Linked DNA regions of Homo sapiens. The protein of the gene in region 2 interacts with the protein of the main gene of each other region in a biochemical or structural test. Each region holds a gene or a part of one and is shown on either strand. Other genes may lie near its edges. The genes, in order: PTPRS and GPC2.

The links.
Region 1: the proteins of GPC2 (region 2) and PTPRS form a complex in vitro, tested with the Homo sapiens proteins (one study listed by BioGRID).

Annotation. Positions count from the first base shown.
Region 1 is NC_000019.10:5,334,114-5,338,021, forward strand, and holds part of PTPRS (receptor-type tyrosine-protein phosphatase S isoform 1 precursor), read right to left. Parts: exon of another isoform or gene 3,344-3,908; intron 3,227-3,343; exon of another isoform or gene 3,135-3,226; intron 2,843-3,134; exon of another isoform or gene 2,749-2,842; intron 2,662-2,748; exon of another isoform or gene 2,575-2,661; intron 2,451-2,574; exon of another isoform or gene 2,382-2,450; intron 1-2,381. UniProt on the Homo sapiens protein: Cell surface receptor that binds to glycosaminoglycans, including chondroitin sulfate proteoglycans and heparan sulfate proteoglycan.
Region 2 is NC_000007.14:100,170,501-100,174,408, forward strand, and holds part of GPC2 (glypican-2 precursor), read right to left. Parts: intron 3,498-3,908; coding exon 3,335-3,497; intron 1,718-3,334; coding exon 1,587-1,717; intron 1,426-1,586; coding exon 1,279-1,425; intron 1,179-1,278; coding exon 1,039-1,178; intron 937-1,038; coding exon 761-936; intron 1-760. UniProt on the Homo sapiens protein: Cell surface proteoglycan that bears heparan sulfate. May fulfill a function related to the motile behaviors of developing neurons.

The DNA.
Region 1 (3,908 bases), on a different chromosome or scaffold from region 2:
CGCCAGTCGCCCAGTCCTGCCGCAGAAGTGGGGCGGCCTTGATTAAGCAGCCAGTGAAGGGGAACGCCCCAGTTTGCAGTGGCTGAGTCATCCTGACATCTCCCTGGTGCTGGACCCCATCGGGGGGCTGAGGGCGGGGTAGCGGGGCGCGGGTGGACACTGGAGAGCCCCTCTTGGGCAGGTCCTTCAACATATCAGTGTAGCTCCCATGTTGTCAAAAATAATAACAAAAACAGAATAGAGGTGGCAGCTACATTCTAGGTGCCGTTCTGAATCTGTGCTTACACACGTTAACTCATTTCTTCCTCCTAACAATCCCTCAAGGTGGGCACTGTTACTCTTCTCCATAGACAGATGAGGAAGACGGAAGCACAGAGAGGTTGAGCAACTTGCCCCAGGTCACACAGCCAACAAGTCGGCAGAGCCGGGATTTGAACCCCATGCAGCCTCAGTCCAGCATCCTTGCTCTTAACCTCTGAGAAAAGGCAGTCAAGAGCCCTGGGGTGTGTGTGTGCGGGGGGTGTCTCTGTAGCGATTCAGGTGGCCCCCGCAGCAGATGGACTGCTGTCCAAACAAACATCCCTGACAATCGGGCAGAGCTCCTTCCAGGCGTTAGGAATCCAGGTTGTGGCAGCCAACAGCTTGTGGGCTGTGTGAAGTGACCTCAGGCCAGTGAAGGCCCCTCCCTGTGCCTCAGTTTCCCTCTCTGCAAAATAGGGCTCAGATCACAGCAACTCCGCTGACAGGGGACGGCAGGTTGGAGGAGACAAGGATGCTACTGACTTGCTTACTTAGCAGAGGGCCTGGCACGGGGCGCCAACTCTAAATAGTCGGAGCAGCTGTTATTATCCCCCCGACATCCCCTCATTTGCTGATCACGGGGGTTAATTATAAGCGGCATTAAATTATACACACACAGACGCGCCAACCTCGCTTCCCCAGAACCCCTGAATTTCCGCAAACTCTCAATTACCCACGTGACAGCGCGACGATGGGCCATCCTCCCAGCCTCTCTCCCCACAGCCTGCCTCATCCGAGGGTCCCAGGCTTCCAGAGCCATGGCTTCTCCGCCCGCCGGATACCCCTCTGGGTGTCCAGGAGCGGAAGGAAGGATGCATGCGACTGACTGCGGACGCGTTGAGAGCCAGGGGAGGCATGTTTACCCACAGCATCTCATGTCAAGGCTCGCCGCGACGCAGACTGCGACTGTACTGATCTTAGAGATGAGAGAACACAGAGAGGTCAGGCAACCCGCCCTAGTTTGCACAGCTCAAGTGAGGAGGGTGGCTCAAGTCAGGGCTCTGACCTGGAACCCAGAGGGGTAACCTCATTCTGTAAGTGAGGAAGCTCCTGCACGGAGAACTGAAAGGGAAGAGGGGAAGTCATCCAGGAAGGAAGGAAGGCAGGCAGGCAGGTGAGATCTGGGAGAAAAAGGGGAATTTTCAGTTCTCCAGGTAGGGGGAACAGGAGACAGCTGGCCCTTCCTATAAGGGGCTTATGGCAAAGATCAAAAACAACTTAAAAGGAGCAAGGCCACCCAGATAACATAAAGAGTACGAGATGAAATCTGTCCCCATGAAACGGGACATTTGTGATCCAGCCCCAGTTACGGCGATGGGGACCGGAGGAGGGAGTCCCCATGATCCAAAAATCCAGGCTCTGAACCCCCAACCAGGGTGGGATCCGCGGGAATCAGAAGGAAACAGGAAGCCGCACAGAAACCTGGGTTTATTTTCAGATGTGGAATATCCCCTCGGCCTCTGCGGGGCGCAGAGGGTGCCTTGATTCCGGGGAACAGAAGAGGGGATTCCACGGCTAGCCCAGAATAGCACCAGCCCCAAGGTCCAGTCTGGCCAGGCCACGATGTTGGGGGACCGGCAGCTCCATGGAGGAGGAGGAGGAGGAAAAAAAAAAAAGAGAGAGACAAAAATAAAGCGATGTGAAAGTGGAGGGCCTGTCCGTGAATCACTCCTACCCGTTAATTTTCGCCTTTGGAGAAGTGTAAGCCAATTGATTTTTCAAATTCCCCACACACAACCCCCTCCCCAGCGCTTCTCAAATATCAGCCAGAGACAAGACAGAAATGGTACGTCGGGTTTTTTTTTTTCTTCCCTTTTTGGTTGAGAGTCTTTTCTTTCCTTAAAGGAAAAGGGGGGGGGGCGGGGGGGAAACCACACACTCCACACTCTTGAACCTCAGGGTTAGAGAGACCCAGGTGTCACCTGTTTCCTAGACATTTTGGGGCTGCCACTCTCTGCGTGAGACAACAGCCACCCTTTCCCTCGATCACATCCCCTACACTTCACTTCCTCTCTCCGTGTCCCCCTTCCTCAATTCAGAATGTCACCTGGTGATAAGATGACATGCATTTGAGCCTCAATCCCCTTCCAGCATCCCCTCTCCTCTGCCCCGCAAGCCACAAGCTGGCAGCTTTCCGATTCCAGAGCAAGGTAAGGTGTGAAAATGACAAAATTCACAGTTTAAAAAGCCCTTGAAACCTTCAAGCCCCGGATACGTGCCTTGGTCCGTGAATCCATGGTGAATTTTTGGTTTTTTTGTTTTGTTTTGTATCAGCTTGCCACACGAATCCTGCGAGGAACAGCAGTTATGTCTTAATCTCCTCTCCTCCTGTCCCCACCGGAGGCTGAGCCACTCTGCCTGGTGAGCGGTTGGAGGGTGGGGCGGCGGCGGGTGGTGGGGGGGAGGGTCTCTCTTCAAATTCCCCTCCCTGGGCATCTTTTGCCGCAGGGAAGGACGGAGGAAGGGCAACCTGCACAGGCTTTGCCCGAGAAGGGTTCTCATCCTCCTTGCAAATTCTAAGAGGACACCCACCCATTGGAAGGTGAGCCAGGAGCCTACCCTGGATGCAGAGGAGAGCTGGGGAGTGCCCCTTTCTGGGACCCCTGTCTCCTTCCAGAAAGTACGAGACCCTCCCAGAAGGGGGCTACAGCGGTCAGCACTGCGCCCGCCAAACCTAAAGCTCATCTCAAGATCTTCCCGTGGCTCCGACCGACTCTGCAAATGGAGCTTAATGGGTAGCAGGGGGAAGGAATTGCTCTCAGCCGAAAAACATTAAGCTTTGTCAATTATCCCCCAAACCCGCTGGGTTTATAAATATCCCTTTTTATTTTTAGGGTTTTCCCTCCCGCTCGCCCCCATCCCGAACTCTCTCCACGCCCCGCTTCTTCCCCCACGCACACGGCGGCTGCACCGTCACAGAAAGCAGGTGAACGCGGGGCCACGGGGCGCTCGGGTAGAAATGCCACGTCGCACCACCAAGTCACACCGTCCCTGCCCGTCCCTCTCCGGCCATCCCACTAACTATTGTATTGGGGCCATGCAGCCGCTGGAATAATCAGCGAAGCCACAGGTCTCCCCATCTTGGCAAGTGGAGGTGTGCGCTGCCCTCAGACATCTGTGAACCGCTGTTCAACGCCAACCCCGAAGGCAGAAGGGGAAACCAAGTCACCTCCCAGAAAGACGTTTGATGAGCAGAGATAGATTTGCCTCCAGACTGGTACCAGGTCTGGGGAAACCCAGGCAGAGCCCCAGGCTCTATGCGACCCAAAGAAGAAAAAAATGGGTGCACAGTGATGGCTCCAGGTCTCCCCACCCAGATGCTACCACGAAATCCCTGGCATCCACGAAGCTTCCCCCTGTTCCATGGTGGAAATTGGGGGAAAATGGACTTGTGTCTCCAAGCAGGGTCCATGGACACTGGACGATGCCTGAAATCCCCTGGGAGGCAGGGAAAAAAGGCGCACTGAACGCTCAACCGGGGTATAAGGAGTGATTTTTTTTTCTCTGCTGGCAGCAGGCAGGAACCTGGGGTTTGAATGTCCCCTTCTCTGTCGCCACCTCACGCAGACTTCAGAGGCTCTCAAGGTTTCCTGGAGAGGGGGAAATCG
Region 2 (3,908 bases):
GACAGAGCAGGATGGGAGGGAGAAGCAGAGGGAGACAGAGGGAGGAAAAGAAATTGAGATAAAAACAGAAAGAGAGAGGAAAGGGAGGGAGACACAGGTGGATGCCGGGTTGGGGAAGGGAGAAAGACCATGAGTGACAGGAAGGCAGGGAGAGAAGGAAGGAGAGAGATCCGACAGCAGACATGGGGGGAGAGATCATGATGGGAGACAGTGAGACAGAGAGAAAAAAAAACAAAACAGGCAGATGGGGAGAGAGGATAACAGGAAAAAACAGAAAAATCAGAAGTACACAGAAGCAGAAAGCAGCCAGGAAGAGGGGTGCGGGAAGAGTGACAAAGAGAGACAGAGACAGACAGATAGAAGGAGAGAAGAAAACAATGAGTGTCTGTGCCTTGCTTCTCTGTTTGGCAAACTCCACCCTGCGGAGCCAGCTCAATGTCACCCACCACCCTGGCTTCCCAGCCTCCCCCAAATTGCCCCCTCCCCCATTTTCCCACTGCCCTTTGCCCATTATAAGGGGCTTCCCACTGTTCTTTAAGAATGTTTTCGTGTCTCCCCTACTGGCCTGAAAGGATACAGACCCCCTCATTGATCTGTTACCCCCAGTCTTTCAGGGCAACGCTCAATAAATGCTCGTTGAATGAATTAGTGAATTAATCAATGAACGCTAAGAGCAGAGGCACGGGCGGGAACTACCAGGAGAGGGGAGAGGCTTCAGGGCAGTGGGCGGGGCTCAGGCTCAGGGATGCAGGGGTCTCACCCGCGTCCTGCCCGTCCAGGTCGTGTCCCAGTGCGGCCGTTTTCATTCTGGCCGTGGCCGCCCGGAGCTGTAGCCGACGCCGCCGTGTCGGGACATCGGGGCCCGAGGCGTCCACCTTGAGCTCGGGGTTGTTGACCTGCTCGGCCGGGGAGCCCCCGACCACTGGCGGCAAGTACCTGCGAGCAGAGCAGCCCCGAAGCGCCAGCTAGCGCGCGCGGCCCCGCCCCTCCCGGCCGCGGTCCCGCCCCCTGCTGCCCCCCGACGCCCCCGAGGCTCACCGGCCCCGCCCGGCTCCGGTCCAGCAGGGCGCCGCCTCCAGCGAGGCGTCCGCTGCCATGCGAGAGTCTCCGCACACCGTCAGGGACAGCCGGGCCCAGAAGCCCCGCATCCGGGCCAGACGCTCGCGGAGCTCCCACACCTGGGCGGGCGAGAGGGGGCGGGGCGAGCTGGAGCGCGACCCCCACAACCATCCCCGGCCCCGGGCCCCCCCGCCCCCAACTCTTGGTCATCCCACGCACCAGCCGGTGCAGGTTGGTGCCTGCGGCCGTCGTGGGCCGCTCCTCCTCGGTCACCATCGACCACAGCCGGCCCGCCTCTTCCCGGGGCGGCGGGGCTCGACGGTTGCGGGCAGGCACCGGGTCGGGGGGGCCGCACTCCTGAAACACCTGCGGCACCGGGAAGAGACCTCACACAGTCACCCTGGGGGGAAACCACACTGCGTCCCCACTCTGACCCCAGAGTCTCTTCCCAGATCCCCTATACTGCCTCTCTGACACCCACACCGTCCCCGCCCCGGGCCTCACCTCCACCCTTCTCTCCCCTGTACCTGGGCGGACACCTTCGCACTGTTTTCCTGCAGGTACATCAAACCCTCCGAGATCTTCACCCCAATGGACTCGGCCGTCAGCTCAAAGGAAAAGGGGCCCTGGAGCTTATCAGCCAGGATCAGGAGACCATCTTAAGGGAGGGAGAGAAAGAGAAAGGATGGGATGAGTGGTGATACTGAACTAGGATGTTCCTGAAAATCCTCACTCGGGCCTTAGAGAAGCAGCAAAGTGTTTGGGGGAAACTCACATGAGCTCCCTCTCATGTATCCCCCCAATTTGGCTTTAAAGCCCCTCTCCATTTCACCCCCAGCCTTACTCAGGACCCTCCTCCATCCCAGACTTTTTTAAAATTTAAATTTAAATTTTAGGATTTTAGGATTTTTTTTTTTTTTGAGACATAGTCTCACTCTGTCGCCCAGGCTGGATGGAGTGCAGTGGCGCGATCTCGGGTCACTGCAACCTCTGCCTCCTGGGTTCAAGCGATTCTTCTGCCTCAGCCTCCGGAGTAGCTGAGACTACAGGCGCCTGCCACCATGCCGGCTAATTTTTGTATATATATATATGTGTGTGTGTATATATATATATGTGTGTGTGTGTGTATATATATATACGTGTATATATATGTATATATACACGTATATATATGTGTATATATATGTGTGTATATATATGTGTGTATATATATATGTGTGTGTATATATATACGTATATATATGTGTGTATATATATACGTGTATATATATATATTTTTTTCCGGTAGAGAAGGGGTTTCACCATATTGGCCAAGCTGGTCTTTGTCTCAAAAAAAAAAGAGTCTCATCTGTCACCCAGGCTGGAGTGCAATGGCATGATCTTGGCTCACTGCAATCTCTGCCTCCCGGGTTCAAGTGATTCTTCTGCCTCAGCGTCCCAAGTAGCTGGGACTACAGGTGCATGCCACCACGCCTGGCTAATTTTTGTATTTTTAGTAGAGATGGGGTTTCACCATGTTAGCCAGGCTGGTCTCGAACTCCTGACCTCTTGATCCACCCACCTCGGCCTCCCAAAGTGCTGGGATTACAGGCATGAGCCATCATGCCCAGCCGGCCAAGCTGGTCTTGAACTCCTGACCTGTCCTTGTGATCCGCCTGCCTCCGCCTCCCAAAGTGCTAGGATTACAAGCGTGAGCCACCGTGCCTGGCCAATTTTAGGATTTTTTTAGACAGGGTCTTACTCTCTCGCCCAGGTTGGAGTATAGTGGCATCATCATAGCTTACTGCAGCCTCTAACTCCTGGGATCAAGGGAGCCTCCTGCCTCAGCCTCTGGAGTAACTGGGACAACAGGCATGTGTGCCACCATGCCTGATAATTTCTTTCTTTTTTTTTTTTTTGGTAGAGATGCGGTCTAGCTACGTTGCCCAGGCTGGCCTCCAACTCCTGGCCTCAAGTGATCCTCCTGCCTCAGCCTCAGGAGTAACTGGGACTACAGGCGCGGGCGCTACCATGCCTGGCTGATTTCTTTCTTTTCTTTCTTTCTTTCTTTCTTTTTCTTTCTTTCCTTCCTTCTTTCCTTCTTTCTTTCTCTGTCTCTCTCTCTCTCTTTCTTTCTCTCTCTCTCTTTCTTTCTTGAGATGACGTCTAGCTATGTTGCCCCAGCTGGGCTCCAACTCCTGGCCTCAAGTGATCCTCCTGCCTCAGCCTCTCAAAGTGCTGTGATTACAGGTGTGAGCCACCATGCCTGGCTCCAGGCTTTCTTGAATCCCCTCACCCAGATAGTTGCCCCAGTCAGGCTCCAGTCCCCTGCTGCTGAGACAGCCACGAACCACGTTGAGGCAGAAGCCCTGGCAGGGCATAAGTGAGGGGACCCCCCGGCACAGGGGACAGCCGATGAGACGCATCAGAGCCTGGCTGCAGCCTTCAGACACCGGCACCTGGGGGCAGAGAGTGGGGCTGTGTCCTCCACAAACGCTGTGGCTGCTCTCAGCCTGGCTTGGTGCTGGGCACAGACAGAAATCACATACCCCACCCTACACCTAGGGTTGGTGACCCCACGTGGCAGCAGGTGAGATTGTCACAGATCTGAGGAGGGAGGTTCCAGGTTGCTGACTCTGATTCGTGGGAGGGGTGGAAATAGAGAGGCAGTTAGGGGTGGAGGGAACATTCAAGGACAAGAGTGAGCCCATCACAGCTGGGGAGGGAGGAGGCGGTCAGGAGGCAGAAGGTGAGGCTGGGAGGTCAGGTAGAGGATGGGCAGTGAGAGAGGCCAAGCCAGGCATCTGGCCTTCAGCAGCAGGGAAGTGGAGTCATTGAGGGATCCTGGGGGGTTGGGCGGGGGCAGTATC